7 separate regions of the Homo sapiens genome follow, and all the other regions are linked to region 1. Evidence: fine-mapped expression QTL. A gene starts in region 1. Each other region holds a variant in brackets. All regions are shown on one strand. Distances are between the middles of the regions.

The links. PIP is the estimated chance that this variant, and not a neighbour inherited with it, causes the effect.
Region 2: its variant is fine-mapped to the expression of SURF1 in testis (GTEx, PIP 0.98).
Region 3: its variant is fine-mapped to the expression of SURF1 in whole blood (TOPMed, PIP above 0.99).
Region 4: its variant is fine-mapped to the expression of SURF1 in whole blood (TOPMed, PIP above 0.99).
Region 5: its variant is fine-mapped to the expression of SURF1 in whole blood (GTEx, PIP above 0.99). The same link has a PIP of 0.9 or more in substantia nigra.
Region 6: its variant is fine-mapped to the expression of SURF1 in whole blood (GTEx, PIP 0.98).
Region 7: its variant is fine-mapped to the expression of SURF1 in lung (GTEx, PIP above 0.99). The same link has a PIP of 0.9 or more in unexposed skin.

The regions. Positions count from the first base shown.
Region 1 is chr9:133,354,888-133,358,953 of GRCh38, reverse strand. SURF1 (SURF1 cytochrome c oxidase assembly factor) reads left to right here and starts at 2,467. Exons shown (of 9, transcript NM_003172.4): 1 at 2,467-2,554; 2 at 2,634-2,685; 3 at 3,997-4,066. The coding sequence starts at 2,501. SURF2 (surfeit 2) reads right to left here and starts at 2,404. Exons shown (of 6, transcript NM_017503.5): 1 at 2,284-2,404; 2 at 1,886-2,040; 3 at 1,140-1,243. The coding sequence starts at 2,361. RefSeq lists silencers at 2,236-2,305, 2,546-2,665.
Region 2 is chr9:134,198,046-134,202,111 of GRCh38, reverse strand. The region is part of intron 1 of LOC124902298 (a long non-coding RNA gene); the gene reads right to left. Among named protein-coding and RNA genes, the nearest start is that of RNU6ATAC, 36 kb to the right of the region's middle. The variant C/A (reference allele first, on the strand shown) is at 2,493.
Region 3 is chr9:133,378,577-133,382,642 of GRCh38, reverse strand. STKLD1 (serine/threonine kinase like domain containing 1) reads right to left here. Exons shown (of 18, transcript NM_153710.5): 2 at 3,521-3,607. Among named protein-coding and RNA genes, the nearest start is that of STKLD1, 4.2 kb to the right of the region's middle. The variant C/T (reference allele first, on the strand shown) is at 2,019.
Region 4 is chr9:133,326,789-133,330,854 of GRCh38, reverse strand. SURF6 (surfeit 6) reads left to right here. Exons shown (of 5, transcript NM_006753.6): 5 at 1-2,079. Among named protein-coding and RNA genes, the nearest start is that of SURF6, 7.4 kb to the left of the region's middle. The variant G/A (reference allele first, on the strand shown) is at 2,174.
Region 5 is chr9:133,315,477-133,319,542 of GRCh38, reverse strand. It overlaps the pseudogene LCN1P2. Among named protein-coding and RNA genes, the nearest start is that of SURF6, 19 kb to the left of the region's middle. The variant C/T (reference allele first, on the strand shown) is at 1,596.
Region 6 is chr9:133,401,545-133,405,610 of GRCh38, reverse strand. It overlaps STKLD1 (serine/threonine kinase like domain containing 1), which reads right to left. Exons shown (of 18, transcript NM_153710.5): 13 at 3,733-3,873; 14 at 2,599-2,733; 15 at 1,783-1,911; 16 at 1,563-1,691; 17 at 682-822; 18 at 1-359. The coding sequence ends at 190. Among named protein-coding and RNA genes, the nearest start is that of REXO4, 14 kb to the left of the region's middle. RefSeq lists an enhancer at 493-993 and a silencer at 2,734-2,901. The variant C/T (reference allele first, on the strand shown) is at 1,773.
Region 7 is chr9:133,247,163-133,251,228 of GRCh38, reverse strand. It overlaps the pseudogene ABO. Among named protein-coding and RNA genes, the nearest start is that of OBP2B, 40 kb to the right of the region's middle. The variant A/G (reference allele first, on the strand shown) is at 2,290.

The sequences.
Region 1 (4,066 bases):
TGCCTTCTCAATCCACACTCATGCTTCGGGAGGGCTGGACTGCCTCTCCGCACTCATCAGAAGCCCGTAGACGCATCTTCCCATCCGCAAACCAACCTGAATCTGTCCGCTCCAGCCTCTGTCCATTTCCCTCCTTAGCTGGACTCCAGAAAGGCTTTCTGGTGACCCAGCACCTGCCTAAGGCCGGACACTGCCCTCATGGGCTGCAGCCTACGCTCCACTCTAGCCAGGTGTCCCTGCCAAGCTTCAGGTGCCTCACCAAGGTTGCCAGGGGCCTCTGTGTTATCAAATCTATCATTTTTCTGTCCTCATCTTCCCTTCAGTACCACGGGAGGACTTCCAGCCTCTTCCTGGGGCTCAGGACCAGGCCTCTCTCCCTTCTCTAAACTCTCGCCGGGTGCTCACCCAGATCCACGGTGCAACCATCTCCTTCATCCAGCACGGGTGTCCCTGTTTCAAAAGCCCGATACTTCCCTAATACACACCTTTCCTAATACAGCTCAAGCTTAAAACCTTCAAAGGGACTCTGAATTCTCCCCCCAAAACCCACCGTCTTTTCCTGGATGACCGCAGTCAAGGAGTCCTCCCTTCTCAACCATGCACACTGTCCATGCAGCCCCCACCCAACCCTCTCCACACACCCACTGCAGTGCTCCTGGCCTGGTCTCTGGGTCATCCGGGCTGTGCACACTAGCCCAGCCAGTCCTTTGGAGCCTACCTCAGCCAACACATTTTTGCCTCAGACTTCCATGGACCCTGGCTTCTCCCTGGGGTGCTGTTCCCCCGACCCCACTGCCACCACATCCCTCCAGCCTCAGCCTCGAGCGAATCCCTCAGCGAGTCTCCCCAGCCCTCCTGTCTCCGCAAGCCCACCCCACATCCCTCGCCCAGTTTCTTTCACACCTCGCATTGCCACGCACACTCACTCACTCCCGAGCCTGCTTCTGGCTCTGTGCCTGCCTGCACTAAAAGCTGTGGGGTCAGGGGCCATCATCCCTCTCTTCACTGTGCCAAAAAACAGGCCTGATGCATCAACACGGATCGCTGAAGGACGACCTGCCTTCAAGCACGCTCCATCTGGGGCAAGGCGGGCATGCACTCAGATGGCGATGCACTGATGGGGGTCCACTGGGACTTACATTTACACAGAGCTCGCTGGTACCGCCGGCCCTGGGTGTGCCTCAGCACGTGTTCTGGGCACTTGTTGATGTGCCGCAGGGTGAGTTTGCAGAACAACTGGTGCCTACAGAGCAGAGAGACCAAATTTGTAGGGACAGTTCACAGCAAGGATTCAGACTGGTGGCTGTGTCTTGGACTCATCCCTGGACAGTCTACCATGCGGCTTGGACATCGGGCTTTTAAAGGCTCCCGGAGCAATTCCACTCTGAAGCTGGGTGGGGAACCGTCTGACCCAGGCCGACTGCAGCCTCTTAATGTTTACCGGAAAAGCACGCATGGCAGCCTCACTGACTGCTCCAGGATGAGTTCATGCAAGAGGATGGCTCCACCTGGAGCAAGGGCTCAATGAATGGAAACATCCTATCTCTGTTTTGACGATTATTACAAAGCCTAGCTCCCAGCTAAATCAAAGACCCCTTCTGGGGTTAAGGGAAGAACCCAACGCTGTTCACAACCTCAGGTGACAAATCACAAGCCTCTACTCATCTGGGAAGCAGCCACACCCCACAGGACAAACCTCAGGTGAGCAAACGAGCTCACCAAGAGGCCTCGCCGCTGGGACCGCAGGTGATTCCAGCACCCGGGCGCCCACCTGGGTCCCAGGGCTCCCAACTCTGAAAGAGTAGGGGCTGCAGCACTGGCGGAGTCCAGCGGAGGGGCTGTCCTAATTGCCCTGGGCCTCCCCGCGCCGCCGCGGACCACCTACGGGTTCTTGGTGCTGGGCACGATGTGCGGCTCGAACTCTGCATAGTCGAAGGCCGGGGAGGCGCGGACCAGCCGCTGGTACTTTTTGCCGCGGGTGTAGACCTGGAGCTCCGGCAGGCGGCAGGGCAGCTCGTGACCTGTCAGGATGCACCTCACCTGCGGACGCGTGGGCGGGCAGGACGTCAGGAGGGCCAGGGCTCCGCTCCCTGGTGCCCCCTCCTGCCGCGCCCCCTTCCCTCTCCTCCCCTGATCCCGCCGCGCCCTCTCCCCTGCCCTCCCCTCTCTCCTGCTCTCCCCTCTCCCCTCTCCCCTGCCCTCTCCTCTCCCCTGCCCTCCCCTCAGCCCCTCATCCCAACTGCGCCCTTCTCCGCCACTCCGTTCCCCTCCCGCGCTGCGAACCTTGCGGGCGTCCGTCTGGAGCCGCAGGCTCGGGTGCTCCCGCAGAAACGCCCGCACGTCGCCCGGCAACTCGCTCATGGCCGACGCGCCCGCGGAGCAGCCCGGCGGAAGCCGCTCGCAGAACCTGGAGCCGGGGGCGGGGCTCTGGGCGGGACTCAGCGGCGCCCCGGATGCAGATGCTTCCTGCGTCCCGGAAGCGCCCGCGGGGCCGGGTGCGATGGCGGCGGTGGCTGCGTTGCAGCTGGGGCTGCGGGCGGCGGGGCTGGGACGGGTGAGCGCCGGGTGCGGGGTGCGGGGTGCGGGGCGCGGGGAGGGGTCCCGGAGCTCAGCCCGCCCGTCCGTGTCCGCAGGCCCCGGCCAGCGCCGCCTGGAGGAGCGTCCTCAGGGTCTCCCCGCGCCCAGGTGAGGGCTGCAGGCCGGGCTGTGATCCAGGCGCCTGGGCAGAGCCACCTGCTGTCTGCCCTGCACTTTGAAGGGTTGTCGTGGGGATTGAAATGAACCAACTGCCGGCTGAGCGGAGGCTCCCTGGGAGTGACAAGTTCCGTATTAAAATGCTTTCAGTGGAATTGTGGTCGTGTGCCGGGCATGTAGCGAGCGCTTTGTCCTCACAACGCGAGAGGTAGCTCCTTGGTCGTTCCCCTGTTACAGAGAAGGCTCGAGAGTTACTTCCGAACGTCCCATCCAGCTAATGGGTGGCCAGCCCAGGCTGAAAGCCCAGGGCTCTGAAAGTAAAGCGTATCTAACCACCGCGGCTTACGTGTTCCTCTCAGTGTGCAGCACAGGGCTGTTTTGCCGTGTGTAGAGTGCTGTGCAAGCCTGCCCCAGGCCTGCCTTTTTATAAAAAAAAAAAAAAAAATAGTATCCGCAAGGCCCCTGGTGCTTTTCAGCGGATGGAACTCATCCTCTGAGAGCTTAAAGGCACTTTCTGTGTACATTCTTCCCTCTTTACATTTACGATGAGTTGTAAAAATGGAAAGCTGTTAAGAGAGCTCTGTGAGCCATTACTGAATTGATATATTTTTCTACATAACACAACAACCACTAGTGCCTGACTAAGCTACTTAGTAACTGTAGCTGCTTATTTTTTATTTTTTGAGACAGTTTCGCTCTTGTTGCCCAGGCTGGAGTGCAGTGGCGCAATCTCGGCTTACAGCAACCACCTCCTCCCAGGTTCAAGCGATTCTCCTGCCTCAGCCTCCCGAGTAGCTGGGATTACAGAAGCACCATCGTGCTCAGCTAATTTTTGCATTTTTTTGTAGAGATGGGGTTTCTGCATGTTGGTCAGGCTGGTCTCGAACTCCTGATCTCGTGATCCGCCCGCCTTGGCCTCCCAAAGTGCTGGGATTACAGGCGTGAGCCACCGTGCCCGGCCAACTGTAGCTGCTTATTAAATGCATTTTGAATGGATGAATGGTGCATCTTAGTGCAGTGGAATACATCTAGATTCTTGAGTAAAAAGGCATGAGTTACTCAGGGTCGTGGTTGGTGGTCAAACCGGCACTGAGCCCTAGATCCCACTTACTCACTTGGCAGACGTACTGTGTGTGCCTTGTTCTGGGCACCGGGTTAGGAGCTGGGCTGGATACAGGTGCTGCTAGTTGGCTCTAGGCAGCAGGTTTTGATTGGCAGTACTGGAGTCTGTCTTGGAACGGGCTGCTCCAGGTCTGTGTTCGAGGGCTTCTGGCTCCATGTCAGTGTTGTGAAACTCTCCAGGGGTGGCCTGGAGGCCAAGCAGATGTGGCAGTTCTGCAGCAGAAGCATCTGCCACAAAAGCGGAAGATGA
Region 2 (4,066 bases), 840 kb before region 1:
TTTTTCTGTTTTCTTCTAAAAGTTTTATAGTTTCAGATTTAAAAGTTAGTTTACGTTCTGTTTTTTGTTTGTTTGCTTGTTTTTTGAGACAGTCTTGCTCTGTTGCCCAGGTTGTAGTGCAGTGGCACGATATTGGCTCACTGCAACCTCCGCTTCCTGGGTTCAAGCAATTCTGCTGCCTCAGCCTCCCAAGTAGCTGAGACTACAGACGTGGGCCACCATGCCCAGCTAATATTTATATTTTCAGTAGAAACAAGGTTTCTTCATGTTGGCCAGGCTGGTCTCAAACTCCTGACCTCAGGTGATCCTCCCAAAGTGCTGGGATTACAGGCGGGAGCCACTGTGCCCGGCCTAGGTTGTGTTTTGAGTTCATTTTTGTATGTGGTGCAATGTGTGAGTCAAATTTCATTTTTTTTTTTGCATACAAATGTCCAATTGTTCCAGAATCATTTGTTTAAAAGATGGTCCTATATTGAGTTATATTGTAACTTTGATGAAAATAAATTAAGTATATATACATGGTAGTGTATTTTGGTTCCACTGATCTATTTGTATACCCTTTGCCAACACTGCACTGTCTTGATTATCATAGCTTTAAAGTAACTCTTCAAATCAGACAGTGAGAACCCTCCAAGTTTTGTTCTTTTTTCAAAGATATTTTGGCTCTTCTAGTCTATTGCCTTTCCATATACATTTTAGAATCAGCTTGTTGATTTCTATAAACACTCCTGCTGAGATTTTGATCGAGATTGTATTAAATCCCAAATTTCAGAATAATTGACAATTTAACCATATTGAGTCTTTCAATTCATGAACATAGTATATCTCTCCATTCAGGTCTTCTTTGATTTCTTTCATTGGTGTTTTTCAGTTTCAGCATAATGACATTGTACATGTTTTGTTAAATTTATACCTAAGCATTTTACAGGTTTTGGTGCTATGGTAAATGGTATTGTTTCCTTTCTAATTTCAATTTCAAAGGATTCATTTCTGGTCCACAAAATTATAATTACTTCTTTTTATATTGACCTTGTATCTTATGACATCGCTACACTTGGTTTTTTGGGTTTTTTAGAGATGGGGTCACTGTTGCCCAGGCTGGAGTACAGTGGTGCAATCATAGCTCACTGCAGCCTCAAACTCCTGGAGTTCCCACTTCAGTCTCTCAAGTAGCTGGTATTACAGGCATGAGCCACTGCACTTGACAAAATGAGCTCTGTCTAAGAAAGCTGAGTCTGGAGCAACAGACCCAGAGTAAGCCAGTCTCAAAGGTGACCAGAAACAGTGTGCTACTTTTATTATTATTATTAGAGAAAGGGTCTTACTTTATTGCCCAGACTGGTCTCAAACACCTGAGCTCAAATGATCTTCCCACACCAGCCTGTTGAGTAGCTGAGACTACAGGTGCACACCACCATGCCTGGCACACTAATATTAGTTCTAATAACTTTTTCATAGATTTTTTGAGATTTTCTATATAGATAATCATATTGAATGGAAATAGAAGCTGTTTCATTTCTTCCTCTCCAATTTGTATATCTTTTATTTCTTTTTCTGGCCTTATTCCACTGGCTAGGCTTTCCAGTACAATAATGACACTGCATACCTTTGCTTTCTTTCTGATCTTGGAAAATATTTAGTATTTCATTATTAATTAGATATTAGCTGCAGGTTTTTTGTAGATGCCTTTTATGAGGTTGAAGAAACTCCTTTCTCTTACTGGTTTGCTGAGAGGTTTTTTTCATGAGTAGATGTTGAATTTTGTCAAATGCTTTTTTCAATATCTATTAAGATGATCATATGGTTTTTCTTTTTTAATCTGTTGGTATGATGAATTACATTAATTCCTTTTTTTTTTTTGAGACAGGGTCTCTCTCTCTCTCTCTGTCACCCAGTCTGGAGTGCAATGGCACAAACACAGCTCACTGCAGCCTCAACCTCCTCAGCTCAAGCAATCCTCCTGCTTCAGCCTCCCATATAGCCAGGACCATGGGTGTGCTCCCCCACCCAGCTAATTTTTTTAATTTTTTGTAGAGATAGGGGTCTCACTTTGTTGCCCAGGCTAGTCTCCAACTCCTGGTCTCAAGTGATCCTCCCACCTTAACCCCTAAAAGTGCTGGGGTTATAGCCACCATACCTGGTCTGATTATTGTTATTATTATTATTATTATTATTATTATTATTATTATTATTATTATTGAGACAGGGTCTCGTTCTGTTGCCCAGGCTAGAGTGCAGTGGCTCACTACGGCCTCAACCTCCTCGGGCTCAGGTGATCCTCTCACCTCAGCCTCCCGAGTAACTGGGATTACAAGTGTGCATCACCATGCCCATCTAATTTTTTTTATTTTTCATAGAGACACGGTTTTGCCTGTTGCCCAGACTGGTCTCCAACTCCTGGGTTCAAGTGATCCACCCACCTTGGCCTCCCAGTGCTGGAATTACAGATGCGAGCCACTGCACCCAGCCCTGATTGTTTTTTGAATGTTGAA[C/A]CAGACTTGCATCCTTGCATAAACCTCATTGGTCAGATGTGTTATCCTTTTCATATATTGCTGGATTTGATTTGCTGGTATTTTATTGAGGATTTACGTGTCTTTGCTCATGGGGAATATTGCTCTATAGCTTTCTTTTTCTTTTTTTTTTTTTTTTTTTTTTTGCAATGTCTGGTTTTGATATCAATGTAATGTTGGCCTCATAAAAAGGGTTGGTAATTGTTCCCTCCTCTTCCATTTTCTGGAAGAGATAGTGTAGAGTTGGCATTAATTCTTTCTTAAGTATTGGTAGAATTCACAAGGAAAGTCGTCTAGGCCCAGAGTTTGTATTGTTGTTAGGTTTTTAACAACAAATTTAATTTCTTTAATTTATATGGTACCATCTATTTTTTCTTGAATGAGCTTTGGTAACTGTCTTTCAAGGAATTTGCCCATTTTTTCTAAGTCGTAAAATGTGGGAACATAAAATTGTTTGTAACATTCTTTTTGTTTATTTCTTTAGAGACAAGGTCTCTCTCTGTCATCCAGGCTGGAGTGCAGTGGTGCGATCATAGCTCACTGCAGACTCTAACTCCTGGGCTTAAGCAATCCTCCCACCTCAGCCTACCAAGTGGCTGGGACTATAGGCCCACACAATCATGCCCAGCTATTTGTCTGTTGGCTTGGTTTTTGTAGGAAATCCTCTTGCAGTGTTCTCTATCTCATCATCTACCTAATTACAGAAACCAGAAACCAGAAACCTCAAACCCTCACCCCCAAATCTAGTCTGTCCCTACGTTAGTTGATGTGATCACTTTACACTGTTTATCCCATCAGACTTTCCTCCAGAAGCTGCCATCACCACCAGCACCAGCGCCAGCACCAGCTCCTTAATGCACATCATTGCCTACATGATTAAGGTGGCTTCTAACTACTCTGCCCACCTTGCTCCAGCAACTCTCCTATCTACTCTATGGAGGGGAGCTGGAATGAACCTTCCAAAAGTCACAAACCTGACTGCATCATCCCCCTGCTTAAAACTCTCCAAATATTTTCTATCGTTTTATTGTTTTAATACCAACTTTCTTTTTTTTTTTTTTTTCTTTTTCTTTGAGACAGGGTCTTGCTCTGTCACCCAGGCTGGAGTACAGTGGTGCGATCACAGCTCACTGTAGCCTCTAACTCCCAGGATCAAGTAATCCTCCTGCCTTAGCTTCCTGAGTAGCTGGGATGACAGGCACAACCACCAAGCCCAGCTAATTAAAAAAAATTTTTTTTGTAGAGACAGGGTCTTGCTATGTTTCCAGGCTGGTCTCAAACTCCTGGCCTCCCAAGTGATCCTCCTGCTTTGTCCTCTCAGGGCACTGGGATTACAGGTATGAATCACCACGCCCAGCCTATAATGTTCTGTATTAACCTTTAAATATCTGTAGGATCTGTAATGATATCCCCTCTTTCATTTCTGATATTGGTAATTTGTGTCTCTTTTTTTCTTGATCAGTCTGATCAGAGCCTTGTCAATTATATTAATCTTTTCATAGAAGCAACTTTGGTTTCCTTGATTATGTTTTCCTATTGCTTTTCCATTTTCTATT
Region 3 (4,066 bases), 24 kb before region 1:
CATCACATCATCACCACGACCATAATCACCATGACCACCATCACCATCATCACACCATCACCATGACCACCATCACCATCATCACACCATCACCACCATCACCATTATCATCACCATCATCATCACCATCATCACTGCCACCACCATCACCACCACTACCACCATCATTGCCACCTCCATCATCACCACCATCATCACTATTTAGCAGGAGTGACAGGCTCCCACCATTCCTGCCCCCACCATATGGCACAAATGGAAGATATTCCTAAGGCAGAGATCTAAAAATACTTAGAGCAATGAGAACATCTTTGCTCCTTTTGCAAAGATAAGTTTAGGACAGCATAATATACGCTCCAAGAACTCAGTAAAGGATCCATTTTCAGACCGTCTTTAAACAGGAACATCTTGTTCTGGTTGGGAAAGCATCAATCTCACCACTTCATTCCTTACCCACATGGGGAAGGTTGTCTCCACGCATGGAATGTACAGTGCTCTTCTCTCCTGTGCCCTCTCCGGGTGGAGGTGGGGAGGGCATGGAAAGGGAAGGGTGGTGGCAAGGGCAGCACGGAGCTTTGAGTCTGCAGCACGCTTGGTGGCACAGGCCCTAGGTATATACTACCACTGGCTCTAATACCAGATCCTCACCCAGAATTTTGCTCAAAAGACTTATGAATGAAGTACTCTTATAATGGGGTGAATGCAGACCATCATGTAAAGTTAGTGAATTGTTCCCAGATCTATGGAGAGACCTGAGATGCCAGTGGCACTGTCCCGTGGAATCCAGGGCAAAGACACTGAGTGAGCCTTCCTGTCTTCCTTTCCTCCTGTCCTAGGGGGCATATGAGGAGGTGAAGTTGGCCAAAACATGGAAAGACTTGAAAATGTTACATTGTGGCCGGGCACAGTGGCTCACGCCTGAAATCCCAGCACTTAGGGAGGCCGAGGCAGGCGGATCACCTGAGGTTGGGAGTTCGAGACCAGCCTGACCAATATGGAGAAACCCTGTCTCTACTAAAAATACAAAATTAGCCGGGCGTGGTGGCACATGCCTGTAATCCCAGCTACTTCGGAGGCTGAGGCAGGAGAATCACTTGAACCTGGGAGAAGGGGGTTGCAGTGTGCCGAGATCACGCCATTGTACTCCAGCCTGGGCAACAAGAGTGAGACTCCGTCTCAAAAAAAAAAAAAAAAAGCGGCTGGGTGGGGTGGCTCACGCCTGTAATCCCAGCACTTTGGGAGGCCGAGGCAGGCGGATCATCTGAGGTCGGGAGTTCGAGACCAGCCTGACCATCCTCTCCATGTTGATGGAGAAACCCCGTCTACTAAAAATACAAAATTAGCTGGATGTGGTGGCACGTGCCTGTAATCCCAGCCACTCAGGAAGGCTGAGGCAGGAAAATCGCTTGAATCCGGGAGGCAGAGGTTACAGTGAGCTGAGATCACACCACTGTACTCCAGCCTGGGCAACAAGAGCAAAACTCCATCTCAAAAAAAAAAAAAAAAAAAAAAAAGTTACATCGTATGACCCAGAAATCTCACTCCTAGGAATTTTTCCTAAGGAAATCATGGATGCTAAACAAAACAAAACAAAACAAAACAAAAAAACAAACAAAACCATAATGCCATAAGCATCTTTATCAGAGCTGTTTACACAAAGTGAAAAATTGAGAACAAGCTCAATGCTCAGCCCATGTGATAGGGATGGCTTGGGTTAGTTACAGCACATCAAGCAAGACGGGAGGCCACACAGTTGCCAGAGCCAAGAGAGGAGGAGGCTGTGGGAATGACATGAAACTATGTTTGCAATATAAAAAGGATGCTATCAACTTTAACGATACCATTCTCCTGAATCCAAAAAAGTTTACAAACGCTTAGGAAAAAAGACTGGAAGAACCCATAAACTCCTACCTACACTCTCTTTCCCCAATTTTTATTTAGAAATAATTGGGTGATATTTTTATTTTTAATTTAATTAATTAATTAATTAATTTAGACAGAGTCTCGCTGTGTCACCCAGG[C/T]TGGAGTGCAGTGGCGCAATCTCGACTCACTGCAACCTCCGCCGCCCGGGTTCAAGCAATTCTCCCGCGTCAGCTCCCAAGTAGCTGGGACTATAGGCACCCACCACCATGCTCAGCTAATTTTTGTATTTTTAGTAGAGATGGGGTTTCACCATGTTGGCCAGGCTGCTCTCAAACTTCTGACCTCAAGGGATCTGCCTGCCTCGGCCTCCCAAAATGCTGCGATTACAGGGATGAGCCACCATGCCTAGTCATGGCTGACATTTTTAAAAGCTCCTCAGGCCGGACGCGGTGGCTCATGCCTGTAATCCCAGCACTTTGGGAGGCCGAGGCGGGCGGACTGCCTGAGCTCAGGAGTTCCAGGAGTTCGAGACCAGCCTGGGCAACACGGTGAAACCCTGTCTCTACTAAAATACAAAAAATTAGCCGGGCGTGGCAGCGTGTGCCTGTAGTCCCAGCTACTTGGGAGGCTGAGGCAGGAAAATTGCTTGAACCCAGGAGGCAGAGGTTGCAGTGAGCTGAGATCACACCACTGCACTCTAGCCTTGGCGACAGAGCAAGACTCCATCTCCAAACAAAAAAAAAAGCTCCTTAACTGCTCAGAGGGCAGTCAGCCACACTGCCCCAGTGGCTTGTGAGACAAGGGGGCCAACCCCACAGCCAGCCAGCAAGGGAGCAGGGCAGGGGCAAGGACTCCAGGCCCAGCCATACAGGGTGAGACTGCGGAGCTGTACGGACTGAGGCCTGGCCCAGTAGCAGCTGCTGACAAGGCTCCTCCCGCTGTATGGCCAGCCCTGAACCTGCTGGGTCCCTGCCACCACCACAGAGAGGAGGGCATGCCAGGGACTCTTGCAGCAGCTTTCTCACCCTAGTCCCTCTGTTGATCTGGACCTCCCTGTCTCGGACACACAAAGGGCTGTCTTCCTGCAGGCCTACACCTCCCCATGCCCTGCTAGCCCTGGTGAGGAGTGTGGTGGAAGGGCTCAGGGCCTGGTGTGTGACCTTAGCCCTGTGTGACCTTGAGCCAGTCCCCATCCTCTCTGGGCCTGGCTCCCTTTTGGTAAAACTGGTGACCCAGCACTGGGTAGCACGGTGTCCCCCAGTGAGGTGGCCTGAATTCAAATCCTCTTGGAAATTGTGTGACCTTGCCTAGTCTGGCGCTGCATTGAGCCTCACTGTCTTTGGCTATAAACAGGGTCATTGTTTCTGCTTTACAGGGTTGACGGGAGATGAAGTGAGTCAGTGCCTGGCATACAGCACGTGATGCGTAAATGGTGGGAGGTGGTGGTGTTGGAGTAAAAATTAGCATTGCTTCCCCATCAAGGTGACAGAGCTTCACGCACCCCCACATCTACCCCAACCAGATTAGTCTCCGCAAGTGTCAGCAGCGAGGAATCCAGCTGCCGCATCAGGAAGCTTCTCCAACATGGGAAGAGCTTGTATTGGGGAAAATCACAGTCACAGAACCACCCGGCATGGGATGCACAGGCTTGGCCTCTTACCTGCTTTATCACATGCTTGACTTTGGTTTCCATTTCCTCCACCACCAGGTTCACCCCCAAGGCCCCAGGATTCAGCTGGTACAAAACCTATCAGCAAGGAAGAGAGAAGCTTTCAGGAAATGCACACAACTTTTCCCTTTCCAAAAGCCCAGCTCCAACTCCTTTTCTGGCCCTGCTAACTCCCCTGTCAGGCTGGCAGAGCAAGTGGCTCCACCCCATCTTGCAATAGAGGAAATGGCCCAAGGAGGGCAAGAAGCCTTTCAATGGCAGAACTCTGATCTCACCTATTTGGGGCCGATTCTGGAGCTCTTCTACAACCCTGTATCCCTCCCCCAACCTGCAATGAGGACCAGCTGGGCACTCAAGTGCAAGAACCTCCCAGAGAAAAAGGGCTTATTCACTCTCTATAGACCTCTGTGACCTCAACTTCCAGCATCCACCTCCCAACTGGTTTCCAACAAGAAAGTAACCAATCTTGTGACTGGTACAATCAGGAAGCCATTGTGTGCCTGGCATGGTGCCAAGCACTTCACAGCCACCCTTTGC
Region 4 (4,066 bases), 28 kb after region 1:
CATACTCTTTCCATGCATATATGGAACATGGATGGAAACTGACCACCTACTTTGTCCAGAAAAGAAGTCTTAAGATATTTCAAGGAATCAGTGTCGTTATCTGACCGTATCCCAATGTCATTAAAAAAAATTTGAGCTATTTTTTTTTGTTTTTTAGATAGAGTCTTGCTCTGTCACTCAGGCTGGAGTGCAGTGGCATTTCATATTTGGAATTTTTAAAACACACTTATAAATTACCTATGAGTTAAAGAATTCCGAATGGCTATTAGAAATATTTGGGACTAAAGGATAATGAAAATGCTACGTATTAAAATTTGTGGAACAGGGCCTGGCATGGTGGCTCATGCTGTCAATCCCAGCTCTTTGGGAGGCGGGTGGATCACTTGAGATCAGGAGTTCAAGGCTAGCCTGGACAACATGATAAAACCCCATCTCTATTAAAAATAAAAAATTAGCTGGGTGTGGTGGTGCAAACCTGTAGTCCCAGCTGCTTGGGAGGCTGAGGCGGGAGAATCACTTGAACCCAGGAGGTAGAGGCTGCAGTGAGCCAAGATCGAGCCGCTGCACTCCAGCCTGGGTGACAGAGCAAGACTGTCTCAAAAAGAAAAAATTTAAGATTTGTGGAACAGAGCTAAAGCAGCACAAAAAAACATAGCCCCTAAATGTATGTGCATCTACAGATAAATAGTGCCATTTATACACACATACGCTGTATGTCTGTATTTTTAAAGCTAAAGAAAAATAAGCATGCAGCTTAAGTTGGAACAACTCAAAGTAAATGGAAGAAAAATCTCCAAAACTGACTAAAAGTAATAGAAAGCCTGAGTTGTAATCACTGATGAAATTGAGTCAGTAGTTAAGAATGTTCCCCTAGACGGTTTTACAGGGAAGTTCCACGATATAGAGAACAGGTAATTCCAGACGTAGACAAATTCTAACAGAATCAATTGAGAGAACACTTCATTCGTGAACTTAGCTTTGATACCAAAACTAGGTAAGAGAAAGGGAAGTTACCAAATACCTGTGGGCGGCAAGCCACCCAGGCGCCGAGGCAAGAGACAGAGGACACGAGCTGTTCCAGTATAATAAAATATAAAACAAGAATAGTTACAGCAGATATAGATCTTAGATATGATTACATATGAATATCATTAATCATTAGTTTGTAGCAATTACCTTTTATTCCAATATTATAATAATCCTCGCTCTATAATCATAGCCTAGGAAAAACCAGGCCATACAGAGATAGGAGCTGAGGGGACATAGGTGTGACCAGAAGACAAGAGTGCGAGCCTTCTGTTATGCCCGGACAGGGCCACCAGAGGGCTCCTTGGTCTAGCGGTGACGCCAGCGTCTGGGAAGACGCCCGTTGCCAGGTGGACCATGGTCTAGCAGTAGCAAAAAGTATCAAGGAACAACACCCGCTACTTAGCAGACCGGGAAAGGGAGTGTCCCTTTCCCTGGAGGAGTTTAGAGAAGACTCTGCTCTTCCACCTCTTGTGGAGGGCCTGACATCCGGCAGGCCTGCCCGCAGTTATCTGGAGGCCTAACCGTCTCCCTGTGATGCTGTGCTTCAGTGGTCACGCTCCTAGTCCGCCTTCATGTTCCATCCTGTACACCTGGCTCTGCCTTCTAGATAGCAGTAGTAAATTAGTGAAAGTACTAAAAGTCTCTGATATGCAGAAGTAATGGCATAAGCTGTCTTTCTCTCTGTCTCCTCTCTCTCTCTGCCTCGGCTGCCAGGCAGGGAAGGGCACCCTGTCCAGTGGACACGTGATCCACGTGACCTTACCTATCATTGGAGATGACTCACACTCTTTACCCTGCCCCTTTTGCTTTGTATCCAATAAATAACAATGCAGCCAGACATTCGGGGCCACTACCGGTCTCCGAGCATTGGTAGTAGTGGTCTCCCGGGCCCAGCTGCCTTTTCTTTTATCTCTTTGTCTTGTGTGTGTATTTCTACACTCTCTCATTGCTGCACACAGGGAGGGAGAGACCCACGGACCCTGTGGGGCTGGTCCCTACAAATACCAATGTCAAGATTTTAGACAATAATAAACCAAGTTTAGCAAAGTGCCACACTGGATTTAATTCAGAATTGCAAAGCAGTTTCAATGCCAGAGAATCAAGAGTGTAATTCATATCAATAGATTAAAGGAGCAAAACCCAC[G/A]TGACCATCTCAATGGTTGCAGAACAGGAACACAGTAAATGACGCGACAGCCATTTATAACGAGTTTTTAGCAAACTAGGAATTAAGGTATTTCCTTACTCTGATAAGGGGATTTGGAGCCAGGCATGGACCCATCTTGAAACTACATTCTGGGTCAGGCAAATGTAGATGTATTGGAGGGAAAGACATCCCCATGGGTTCCCAAGAGGTGAAGTCATCATAGTGAACTAAGGGGCCAGTGAGGGTCTGGAAAAGGCCACTGCCATCACCTGGCTACAGAGACTGAAGAGGCGGGGGGGGGTCTCGTCCTGAGCAGAGACAGGACAACTGGGTGGGCCAGTGAGGGCTGCAGGTGGGGGAAGCTGAGAACCCAGCAATATTTTACTGCCACTGGATGTCTGCACAAGGAACCTATGCCAGCCAGGGAGGTTGAGAGTGAGGCTCAGTGGGGACTGGCATACTGGCTGAGTGGATGCAGTCATTGAGCAACGCATGTCATGCATGGCGTGGGCCATCACTCTGCTGGGTGAAAGTTTCAGGAGCGAATGAGACCCAGCCCTAGCTCTCAAGGAACCCATAGTCTCATAGGTAGTGGTCCTGCAAAGTGGCCAGGGAAAGGATCGGGGTGCAGGGTGCTGAAGTCACATGGAAAGTTGTGAACGTTGCCGGTACCAAAATGGAGTCACTTATGTCAAACTAAAACAGTTGGAGGTGATGAAGCAGCCCTCACGCACACATTCCTGCAACAGGACTTACCACAAGACATTTCTACAAACAGACCAATAACAGGACTCACTGCAAGACCATCCTCAACGGTTGCAGTATTCCAGATAAGCTGCTATTCCCAAATCCATTTATTTTAGAGAGTCTATCTCTGGATTTCTTCATAGGTTGACTGTGTCATGTAGGATTCAGTATAGTGAACAAAGATTGGGGAAAGGCAGACCCCAGGCAGAAGATCAGAGGCAAGGGGGACAGTCATGCATTTGTAAGGTCTAAAAAGTTCAGTCTGCTTTTGTGATACCTGACGAATTTTCATATGTTGTGTTTTCATTCAGTTCAAAATACTTGCTAATTTCCCTTTGATTTATTCTTTGGCTAATGAGTTATTTAAAGGTATGTCATTTAGTTTCCAAATATTTGGGAATTTACCAGAGATCTTTCTGTTACTGATTTCTAGTTGAATTTCATTGTGGTCAGAGAACATACTTTGTATAACTTGAGTCCTTGGCTGGGGCGTGGTGGCTCACACCTGTAATCCCGATACTGGGAGGCTGAGGCAGGAGGATCATTTGAGCCCAGGAGATTGAGGTCAGCCTGGGCAATGCAGCGAGACCCTGTCTCTACAAAAAAATTTAAAAAATCACCCTGGGGCGGTTGCCCACGCCTATGCCTATAGTCCCAGCTACTCAGAAAGCTGAGGTGGGAGGATCACTTGAGCCCAGGAGGTTGAGGCTGCAGTGAGCCATGTTCCTGCCACTGCACTCCAGCCTGGGCAACAGAGTGAGACCGTGTATCAAAAAACAACAAAAAACCACTTGAATCTTTTTGAAGTTAACAGGGTTTGTTTCATAGCCCAGACTGTGGTCTCTCCTGGTAAATGTTCTGTGTGTGCTCGAGAAGAATGTTTTCTGCTCTTGTTGAGTCAAGTGTTTTAATGTCAGGTCCAGTGGAGTTCAAGTTCTGTATCCTTGCCAATTTTCTTTTCTTTTTTCTTTCTTTCTTTCTTTTTTTTTTCTTGAGACAGAGTTTTGCTCTTGTTGCCCAGGCTGGAGTGCAATGGCGCGGTCTTGGCTCACTGCAACCTCTGTCTCCTGGGTTCAAGCAGTTCTCCTGTCAGCCTCCTGAGTAGCTGAGATTACAGGCATGCGCCACCATGCCCGGCTAATTTTG
Region 5 (4,066 bases), 39 kb after region 1:
AGGCCCCTTTCCCTCTTACTGGTCTTCTTTTGAATTTAGTTTTTAAAACAATCTTTTCAGTTTATTTGTTGTCTTATTCACTGACAGTCTTTTGTTTTCTTGTTTGTTTGTTGACTTTAACAGGTGCTTTAGGGTTTATAGTATGTCTTTAATTTATCACAGTCTACCTTCATCTAGTATAAGAACCTTACAGCTGGGCTCAGTGGCTCACGCCTGTAATCCCAGCACTTTGGGAAGTCAAGGCGGGTGGATCATGAGGTCAGGAGTTCAAGACCAGCCTGGCCAACATGGCGAAACCCCATCTCTACTAAAGATACAAAAAATTAGCTGGGTGTGGTGGTGTGTGCCTGTAATCCCAGCTACTCGGGAGGCTGAAGCAGGAGAATCATGTGAACCACCAGGCAGGAGAACTGTGCACCACCACACCTGGCTAGTTTTTGTATTTTTAGTAGAGATGGGGTTTTGCCATGTTGGCCAGGCTGGTCTCAAACTCCTGACGTCAAGTGATCCACCTGCCTTGGCTTCCCAAAGTGCTGAGATTACAGATCTGAGCCATCACACCTGGCTATTATTTTTATTATTTTACACTTTCTTCCAGAATTACTCTGTATTTAATTAGCACAATAATGACAGCAGCTGGCATCATTGAGCGTTCTCTGTCAGGTGTATCTTGCTGAGCACTGCCCCTTTGCTCTCGACTTTCATCTGAGGGTGTTGACAAGGTCGGAGAGAATGGGGGGTGGTGGAGACGGAAACCTCTGCCCCAGCTCAGCAGAAGGCTTCAGCACGCAGATCACATTCCTCAGTCCTAGGAGGAGGTGGGTGGTACCCAGCACTGCCCCTGGTAGCTCACAGGGTCTGATCCGGGGCCTTTGCCCCCTCAGGGTCCCTCCAGCTGAGGTTCTTCAGTGGCACAGTTTGCCCTCAAGGCTGCCAGTTGCCGAGCCTTGTAGGAGGGGCTGAGAGAGGCCTCCCAGCAGGTCTGCCCACCTCCCCAGCACCAGAGCTCTCCTGGGTGGGGAAAGGGAAGGCCCTAGACCAGGTTGCAGGCTGGCCGGCCGGCTGGCAGACACTCACAGCATGGTGACCTTGGCTTCCAGGTTGCCCCCTTCCAGGGTCGTGAGGGTCATGGGTGTCACCGATTCCAGATTCATCTCAGGGAACTCCCTGTCCACCGTCATGGCCTTCAGATACCACGTCCCTGACACCTGGAGAAGGCCCCTCTCTATCAGGCTCAGGCCGACCGCTCCAGAGCCTCCCCCTTCCCTGGCCTGCAGCCCCCAGACTCTACCGCACCCCACAGGCTGGAGACGGGGAACATTCCCCAATCTAATCCACCCAGAAAACACCCAGCACCCTCGCCAGGTCCACCCGAAGGTGGCTCCAGCCCCCACAAGTTGGCCAGGACCACAGGAGCCCTCACCCCCAGGAGAGAAGTGAAGTCAGCCAGACCCCCACCTTCCCAGCTCTGCCCCTCTGCATCCCTGTCCCCCCAGCCCAGACTCCTGCTGTCCCATCTCACCATCTTTCAGGGCAGGGCTTTTACGCCCAACCCGAAAATGAGGGTCTCCTTGGATGGGGGAGGGATGTGGTCT[C/T]CATCCAGCAGTCTCAGCCTCGCCCCTTGCCCCCTCCAGCCCACCCTTCCCATCCAAGCCTCACATCCTGAATCTCCTCGTCTGAGGCCAGGAGGTGGTGGGCCTGCAGGGCAGCAATGAGGCCGAGGCTGACGGCCAGGAGCAGGGGCTTCATCTCCGGGATCTGAGTCCACGGCCGCCTGACGGTTTGCTTGCTGGGGCTGGGAGAGGGTGTGCCACTCCCACAGCCACCCTTTATACCGCTGGGCTCAGGATCCCCCGGGGACCTGGCACAGGTGACTGACCAATCCCTTCCTGGATGTAAACCACGGCCAGTTCTGCAATGGAGCAGGTAACGTGCCATTGTTGCTGGAGGCTGGTGAATAACAGCTTGTTAATTCCAGAGGATCATCCGGACAGGACCAGGTCCAGAGGAGCGGGTTTGCAGATTTCACCTGGGAGGAAACTGAAGGGAGTGAAGGGCGTGCAGGCCTCCTGGGGACATGTGCGGCAGTAACAGGCGCCCCCCAGCCATCCCACACGGGCTGACGTGCACACCGTCAAGGGGGTTTGGGGTTGGAGTCCGAGGGTCGTGGGCTTGGGGCTCGGCTGAGCTTCCTGCATCTCTGGGCAGGTTACTTGGCCTCAGATTCATCATGGAAAAAAAGGGACCCTCCTGTGTGAACACGATACCGTGTGCATTTAAGGACGGTGTCCACTGTCCTGAGCAAGGTGTGCAGTAAGGACCCTCTCTGCTCCACACACAGAGCAGCAATAGGTCAGACAGACAGAAGACCAAGACAGGTGTGTGTGTGTGTATGCAGGTGTGTACATATATACATGCACACACATGCACAAACACACACACACTCACATAAAACAAGGAATGGAGGAGAAGCACAGGCTGGTGATGGGGCAGAGGCAGGGGCCTGTCAGCTCCAAGTCCCAAGGCAGGCAGAGAGGGCCTAGATCCACCTCCTGGGAGTGATGGGTGTGTCTTCCCTGACTCCAGAAAGGAGGCTGAGAAACCCTCCTTGATACATCCCAGAGCTGTAACTTCGTATAACTTAGTGGAGCACTGTGGGCATAGGAAGGCAAGAGGACATCAACACAGCCTCAAGGGCAGAAGCTGAGACAAGCCGTCCTCGGAAAGGATGACTTTATCTGTGACATGCTCTGCATCACTGCAGAGCAGAAGCCTGGGACCCAGGATGGGAGCAGAGGCTACAAAACACTGCTAGACAGAGGACAATGACAACAAGATGGCAGAGAAAGGCAGAAATGCAGAGACACAATATCCTCACCTTGAAATAAGCAAGGCCAGTTTCCAAATTACCCAAGGAAACACCACACTAAGAAAGGCAGGCTAAAAATGAGCAATTGGTACAGGAACTTACACCAGACTTTTTTTTTAAAAAGTAGTATAAAATTAGAAGTGGCCAGAATATAAAGAAATAAGGAGAGAGAAAGTAGAAATAATTATAAATTTTGAAGATGAAGAGTAGAGTGAATAAAAAACACAATAGATAGGATAAATTCCAGACTTGACATAGTAGAAAAGAGACTTAGTGTCATGGAAGATAGTACTAACATAGTCAATGAAGAAAGAAAAATTCAAAAGAGAAACTGAGGTGTTACAAATAGATTCAGAGACTCCAGCCTGTATCTAGCAATAAAATGGAGTGGAGGAAACCAACCAGAGTGCAGCAGCTTTGAAAAACACAACACACACACACATACACACACACACACAATACACACACATGCACGCACACACACATATACACACACATGCATACACACACATACACACACATGCACACATATACAAATGCACACGTACACACACTCAAAGGTAACATATATGGAGAATAGATTGAGAGGCTCTGATATAAACAGAATAGGAGTTCCCAAAGAAAAACATTTTTTAAAAATTATTATTATACTTTAAGTTTTAGGGTACATGGGCACAATGTGCAGGTTAGTTACATATGTATACATGTGCCATGCTGGTGTGCAGCACCCACTAACTCGTCATCTAGCATTAGGTATATCTCCCAATGCTAACCCTCCCCCCTCCCCCCACCCCACGACAGTCCCCAGAGTGTGATGTTCCCCTTCCTGTGTCCATGTGTTCTCATTGTTCAATTCCCACCTATGAGTGAGAATATGCGGTGTTTGTTTTTTTGTTCTTGTGATAGTTTACTGGAATGATGATTTCCAATTTCATCCATGTCCCTACAAAGGACATGAACTCATCATTTTTTATGGCTGCATAGTATTCCATGGTGTATATGTGCCACATTTTCTTAATCCAGTCTATCATTGTTGGACATTTGGGTTGGTTCCAAGTCTTTGCTATTGTGAATAATGCCACAATAAACATACGTGTGCATGTGTCTTTATAGCAGCATGATTTATAGTCCTTTGGGTATATACCCAGTAATGGGATGGCTGGGTCAAATGATATTTCTAGTTCTAGATCCCTGAGG
Region 6 (4,066 bases), 47 kb before region 1:
GGGTCCAGGAGCAGTTACTCATGTGACTCAATCCAGCAGTCATGGACAGGAAACTCTTTGGAGAGGTCTGATTACCCCTCCCGTTTAAGATTGATTTTGGCCCAGTCATAGAGATGGGATAATAGGCAGGCAGGAGAGCAGTCTTGAAAACTATACACGTGGAGATCAAGGTCAGTTCCATACAAACATCTATTCCAGTCCCCCAGACGTGGTGCACCCCAGCTGGGGGCTTCCACCTGGAGGGAGGCCTGGTTTGCTGAAGGCGCTGCTGTCACTCACCAGGCTGGAGGTGAAGCGCTCCTTGATCTCCTGGAGCAGGGCCTTCATACTACTGGACACCAGCTCCGGCAGGATCTCCTCTGCAGGTGGAGCAGGAAGGTCCTGAGGCCAGAGTCCTTCCTGTGCCCCTTGCCAGAAGCCCCAGAAGGATGAGAGTGGGTCACATTCCCCCTTGGGCTTGGCATGCACAGAGCCACCTTGCAGTTCCGGAGCCCCAAGCGTCACCCTCAGCCAGGACAACCCCTGGTGCTCAGAAGATGCCAAATGAGTGGGAAGTTTAAGTGGGCCGAGAAGTGGGGTTGAGCCCACCTTCCATGTGCTCCTTCCCTGTCAGTTATAGGGGGAGCGGGGCACCCCTGACCGCTGGGCTCTAGGGAGTGTGAGGTGAGAAGGGGTTCTCACCATAGGAAGCCAGGTGGACCAGCAGCATGCCCACGTTCTCCACCACCTCCGGGTCGTCCCTGTGGAGCTGGTAGGTCTCCTTGATGAGGCTGAGGCCACTGCCGCCCTCCTCCTGCACCACCACCTTGAAGGCCGCCAGCTCTGGGGGATGGGTGGGAGTGGGTTCATTCCCTGCTTTCCCCTGAAAGGGAAGAGCCTTCTGCCCAGGACGGGATGGGACCCCAGAGCTCACACAGGGGCCTGGGACAGGACAAGAGACGGGACCCAGGAGGCCCCATCAGCTTGGGCGGACCAGTAGGCTGGCATGACCTGAACAGGACCATGCAAGAACAGAGGAGGCAGCCCCCCCAGAGCCAAAGGGGTCGTTGTCACTCTGGGGAAGATTAGGTAGTACAGAGGTCAAGACCATGAGCCCGGAGTTGCCAGGCACCAGCTAGTGTCTTGGCCAGGCCCAGGATGCTCTCTGAAGGACTGTGCTGTGGGCCGAGCGTCGGTTGTGCTGTGCTCAGCGCTGGGCCCAGCCTGTCTAGCTGAGTAACAGGCAGGGTTTGTGTTGTGGGGAATTGGAGACACTGTTTGCAGAGCTGTTTTGATCAGTCACGGTGTGCCTGCATGTTAGGAAACCTGTGCAGATGTGATGTGTTTATGGACAGAGAGAGGGTCACAGGGTAGCATAACGCAGAGACAAGAGTTTATCAAGTGTGCGTGAAAGTCTTGATGGTGATTTCTGGATGACTGGACTTCAGATCGTTTTTAATTTCTTTTCCTTTTTGATTTGTTGCTTCTGTTTTTTGGTTTGTGGCACCTGGCAGATGTAACTGATGGGGGCTGATTCTTGCCCCCACCTCTAGGTGGCAGCCTCGTCCTGTCCCCAGGCTCACCTGACACCTTCACCAGGCTGGCCAGTCCCCGGTAGGCATTGTTCACCAGCAGGGCTCTGTCCTGGCACAGCCGGATGCTTTGCAGGAGCAGCGCCACCACTTGTTCAAACTGCTGCTCCTTGATGCAGCCTGCAGAAAGGGGCCGGGCTGCCTTGTGCCTGCTGTGCCATGAGGCCCACCCCTCCCAGCCCCAGGGGCCCAGGGCGCCCA[C/T]CCAGCTCACCCAGCAGGGACAGCAGCCAGAAGACTCCGCAGCTGGCTTCTGCCATTTCCCCATCCGCAGGGTAGGTGGCCAACACCTGGCTGATGAGGTCCGGGACCTTCTCCAAGGGGGCCTTGTTCACAATGATACCTGGAACGAGGACAGGGATGGAAGGGGACACCCAGGCCTTGGGTGTGTGCAGGGGGGCCTTCCCATCCCCCATCTGCTGCCTTCCTCCAGCTAACGACAACAGCAGAAATGGGGTGGGAAAGGTCAACTGTCCTCAGAGACGGGTGCAGGGGTTAGCCCAGGAGAGGCTTGGAGAATCCCACACTTTGGGTGCTGGCAGGGTTCTTGGGTTTCCCGGGCTTTCCGTGGTTTGGAGCTCTCTTTTTCCTGGGGCGCTGGAGTGCCAAGATGGGGTCTAGAGGAGAGGAAGCAGCACAGGCCAGGGGGCCCCCTACTGTGAATCAAAAATCAAAACAAACAGGGCATCCAGCACCACACCACCGCTGCCCTCTGGAACCAGGACTGCCCGGAAAATCCCAGGACATTTCCCTGGGCAGGAGGCACTTAAAACTGAGGGGTCTGCCCACTGGGCAAGAAGTCCTGAAACCCGGCCTCTGCCAGAAGGCCTTTCTCCCCTGCCTTTTCTCTCTCTGCTCCTTGATTTTCTTCTGTTGGAGTTGGAAGCTCTCAGAAGAGCCTTTCCCGGACTATGGCTGTTGTGTTTTAGGGACAGGACATGGAGGTCCTCGAAGGCTCTCAGGGGCAGTTAGGGAGGGGCTGGGGGAGGGCTGCCAGCCCCGGTGGGACAGCAGGAGGAGGGCCCCTCACCGTCCAGCAGGAGGGCCCAGAGCAGGCCCAGGCCGCTGGCGCAGACGTCCCTGCTTTCGAGGGAGCTGTTGAGGTGCTCCAGGATGTGCTCCAGCAGCCCAGCATTCTGCAGCTCCTCTGACAGTGACTCTGACTCTGTGGGTGAGCCAGAATGAGGGCCCCAGGGCCCCTCCCTCCAGGAAGCCTTCCTGCCTCTGTTGTCCTTGGGCACTGCAGTCCCATTTGACCTGCAATCCTAGGTGCCTGCTCTGGGCCAAGTCGTGTGCACTCAATGGAGCCCTGAACAGGAGGATGTGGGACTGGCCCCAGAGGAGTCTGTCCATCTCGTGGGCCACCAGTCCCAATAGCTGCCATCCCACTACCAGGCTGGGTCTGACCTCTGTAGCTTCCCATCCAGGGGGCCTGACCCTGCCTCCTGGGCTCACAGAGCCAGCCTGTGCCTTCCAGGATGGAACCATGACGGGGCCCTATCCCGGTAGGATGAACTGACATCCATTTTGCCTGAGGGTTCCAGTTGACATCTATTCCTAGTGCCTCCTTTCACTCCCCAAAGTGAGATCAGCCATGTATCATCAGTTATCCAGTCTGTGCAGTAAAGAGGGTGCTGGGGCCCAGACCCCAGCCCTGAACCCTGCTGCATGGACTCCTGGCAACTGTCCTTAGGCTCTCTCGAGGCCCAGCTTCCTGTTGGGGAGAACAGTGCCCACCCGATTTGTGGGTGAAGGTGTGAGCGCTCTGTATGGCCCTCTCCTTCCCACAGTCCTGGCTGGAGGCTTCGGAAGCCCACTGGGCCCTATGGAATGGAGACACACAGGGCATTTGAGCCCCAGCCTCCCAGAAGGGGCAGGAAGTGTGGGAAAGAGATGTCATTGGTGTGAAGCCCACAGCTGCGCCTAGCATGTCTGTAGAGGGAACCAGTGACTTCAAGAGTGGAAGCTTGTCATCAAGATGGAAAAGGATGCGACCAGCATTTGGGGTGGCCAAATGAAGACGGCCAAATGCCACCATGTATCTCAGGAGGAGGCCCAGCACTGTCCTGTCCAACCCACCTATACCCCAAACCAACCCTTCCAAGACCCCTGGGAAGGGCTGTCCTGGAGCGTGGGTGGGGCAGGAGGTGGCTGGCAGACACACCCTGGGTTGTGGTGATGGCTAGCAGGCTGTAGACCATGACAAGAAGTGGCTCCTCCTCGGGGTGGCTCTGAAGAGCACTCAGCAGGGTGGAGGTGATGGCTTGGTTGCAGGGAGCCTTGGCTTCCGGGTGGTGCACCAGCGCTGCTCAAGCCAGAGGAAGACGCCTGGGGTTAGCCCCACAGCTCAGGCATGGGGCCAGACACACAAGGCTCACAGGCTGGGGGATAGCATCTCCACTTTGCATGAAGGAAACCGAGGTCTGCCTTGTTCTGACCCAGAGCAGGCCTCCATGAATCCCTGTGGCCTAATGGAGTGAAGGACCGGAAGGGAGCCC
Region 7 (4,066 bases), 110 kb after region 1:
CCTTCTGAGAAGCGTTTTGTAATTTTTCTTATTTATAAAATGGGTTTGATTCAAAACTGACTTTTCCTCTTCACAGTCTCACAGGTCCTTCCCCAGGTCCAAGAGGCTCTTCTGTGTCCTGATGACAAGTAGCTGCCTAGCCGTGGTGGCACCTCCTATCACATGTTAAGGGACCCCTCCCCAGGGCCACACCTGGCAGAAGGTGGCTTATGATGTTCGCAGCTTGAAAGTAGTGTAAACCAAAGATAAAATTCTAAGCCCACTCCCCCAGCCATCGGAATGGACCCCTCCTCTTGGCCAGGGCACTCCAAAGTTAACCTGAAAAACCGGTTCAGGCTGTGAAGAGAAGGTGGAGTGGACATGCCTCATTTATGTCCTCCTCCCTTTTGGAATTCAGCAAAGCTGACCAGCATGAACATTAACACAGACCTTAAGTCTGATTAGTGGCATTTACAATCTATACTCTCTGAAGCGTGCTACCTGGAGTCTTCCTTTGCATGATAAAACTTTGGTCTCCACAACCCCTTATCATAACCTAGACACTCCTTTCTAGTGATAATAACTCTTTCAACCAATTGCCAATAAAAAAATTTTGAATCTACCTATAACCTGGAACCTCCCCGCTCCACCTTCGAGTTGTCCTACCTTTCTGGACAGAAGCAATGTGGATCTTGCATGTATTTGATTGATGTCTCATGTCTCCCTAAAATGTATACAATTAGGCTGTGCCCAGATCACCCTGGGCACATGTTCTCAGGCCCTCCTGAGGTCTCTGTCTCGGGCCATTGGTCACTCAGATTCGGCTCAGAATAAATCTCTTCAAATATTTTTCAGAGTTTGACTCTTTTTGTCGACAATAAGCTCATCAGATTAAAGCTGTTGGAACTTTAAATTACTTCGAGCCTTGAAAGAATGTGATTCTGACACCCTAGTCAAGCAGCAAGTCGCTGTGAACTTTGCTTCTCCAATTATAGATTAACGCTCTTCCTTTCTTGATTTGTAAAATGTTATGAAAGACTAAATGGCACCAGATGTAAGACCCCTTCCCTTTCTTAGTTACTGACCTTTTGTTACGAATTAACTTCTTTCTTTTCTTGCACCCAACTCAGACCAGATGGTACAAAAGACCCCATGCCTATCAAATTCCATAAGACAGTATGTTAAATATACTTTTCCCGAAGGGAACAGGATATAACCAAACAAATTGCTGCAACTCATAAGCCAATCTTATGTGGAAAATGTAATCATGCTAAACCTCCTTGTATTTTCCCATTTAAGTGAAGCCCTAATCCCTCCACCTCAGAGCACTGAGCCCATTCCTTTAGAGTCTGTGTTTTTTGAGTGGTGGTCGTCAAACTTAGAGTTCGAATAAACTCTATAACATTGGATTTTGAACCTTTCAATTATTTCAGGTGGCAGAAGAAACACACAGACCCCATCTCTTCCTTTGGAGTTCTGTACTGCTCATTTCAAAGGGATTTCATCCTGCCCTCTGTAACCACCCAAGGGGTTCCTCCTGCTCCCTTTCTAAATAAAGACCATGCATTCCAGTAAAGAAAGAGTTTAATAGACATGAGGCCAACCACATGGTAGAGAGAGTTTGTACTCAAATCATCTCATCAAAGGCTCATAGCTAGGGGTTTCTCAAGGCAGTTTGGGGGGTCAGGGGTGGCCAAGTAACAGGTACTGATTGGCTGGGGCAGACATGAACTCATGGAGGGTCAAAGCTGTCCTCCTGCAGGCTAAATCGCTTCTTAGGGGGGTGTCACAGGAGTGAGGTTGGGGGTTCCAGGTAGAGCCATGGGTATCAGACCTGCAAAAAACCTGAAAAGATATCTCAAAAGACCAATCTACAGTTGGGGAAATTGTGTATTTTGCTAGAGAGGTCTACACCTTAGCTTCTCCCTCTCGCCTCATAGCTTTTCATTAGGTTTACACAGGCAGAAGAGTTTTGGGGGAGGCCTGCTGTTATTTAAACTATAAATTAAATGTCTCCCAAGGTTAGCTCAGCCCAAAAGCCCAGGAATCATTAAGGGAAAGGAAAGATGAGGGGCGGGTTAGCTCAGCTCACTCTTACAATTTTTCTAATTGATAGAGTTTTTGCAAAGGCGGTTTCACTTTCAGCGTGGTCGTTCTCCTAACCTCTCCTGCTTCCCCAGGTCCTCACCCTAAACCAGCACCCATCCTGCACTCCCAGGGTGAACCCTCCCTTCCCTCCTGCTCACCTGGGCCCAACCCAGTTTCCCCCCAGGAGCTGCGGAAGGGCCCAGTGGTGCCACCTTGGCCTCC[A/G]GGCATCACTCTCCAACTTCTTCCCTCCTCCCTCCACAGGACCCTTGCCTCAAATGTCAGTCCCGCTGCTCTCTGCTGCACTCAGCCTCTTCCTGGCAAGTGTGCCCCTCCCCTCTTGAAGCCATCACCAGCCTCTCGTGCCCACCCCCATCTAGGCCCCCCACTCCTCTCCAGTCCCGGTGTCTTGGAAGAGCCTCTGGATCACAGGGGCTGGGAAATTCGACTTGTCATCCCCACCAAGCAAACACATGCTTCCATCCAGGGCCCCTCAGTGGGTGAAGGCTGAGCCCCAGTAAAGGATAGATCATCACTGTCAGAGGCGAGTGAACTAGAGCGACTCCATGTTGAATAGGGACTGGGTAAAATGAGGCTGAACCTTCTGCACTGCATTCTCAGGGGGTTAGGCATTCTTAGTCACAGGATAAGATAGGAGGTTGGCAGGATTAGTATCACAAGATACAAGTCACCAAGACCCTGCTGATCAAATGGGATGCAGTAAAGAAGCCAGCCAAAACCCACCAAAACCAAGATGGCGACAAAAGGAACCTCCAGTTGTCCTCACTGCTCATTATGCGCTAATTATAATACATTAGCTGCTAAAAGACACTCCCACCTGTGCCACAACAGTTTACAAATGCCATGGCAACGTCCAGAAGTTACCCCATATGGTCTAAAAAGGAGAGGGACCCTCAGTTCAGAAAAATCCCCTCCCCTTTCTTGGAAAACTCACAAACAATCCACCTGTTGTTGAGCCTATAATCCAGAAATCAGTATAAGTATACTCAGCTGAGATCCAAGAACCCTGTCTTGGGGTTTGGACTGGGACTCCTTTCTGGTAACAATACTAGGGTATACGGAGCCCCCACATCCCCGGGCAAGTGGTGCAGAAGCCGGAGCCATCAGCAGCCGCCCCTGGCAGGCTCCTGTGTGGACTCCTTGCTGCAGGGCATTTGGTTTACCAGGCGTGAGAGACCCACACGTGAAGCGCTAGCCCAGCCCCATCACCGCAGCACAGCCTCACCACTGCAGCCCAGAAAAACCACTGCAGCCCAGACACACGACTGCAGCTGAGGCCCATCACTGCAGCCCAGACACACCACTGCACCCACTGCAGCTCAGCCCACCACTGCACCCCAGCCCCACCACTGTAGCTCAGCCCGACCACTGCAGCCCAGCCCACCATTGCAGCCCAGACACACCACTGCAGCCCAGCCCACCACTGCAGCCCAGCCCCACCATTGCAGCCCAGGCCCTGCAGTTGTCCCTACTAGGTCTGAGTGGAGGAATCAGAGAGAAAACTCTGGAAAGTGCTAGACACAGGGGAGGCCCTCAAGGAATGGTGGCTGCCACTGGGAACTCTGTTTCTGTGGTGCTTACTGGACAGATAGGCTCCTTTGCAGATTTTTTTATTCCAAAACTAAGCTCCCATCACCCAGTCCTGTCCTCCCTGCTGGCAGAGCTTGTCCCTGGATCCAAGCTGTCTCCTCTGCACCAAATCCGGTGGCCTCAAGTCCCAGCTCTGCTTTGCACAGGGGCTTTTCGAAGCCCTGTCTCCCCTGCTGTGAGATGGGGGTCACCCAGCTGCCCCCCAGGGGGTGGTGTTGCTGACGGAGCAGGTGAAGACAATGCCAAGAGCTGCGCGTGGTCTGGCTTTCCCAGGCTGGATGTGCCCCTCTGATCCTCAGTCTCCCCACATGGACAATGGCTGATGCCGACCACCCACACTAGGTTTGCCCCAGAGTCAAAGTGAGCTCCTTGAGGACAGGGAACTGACCCC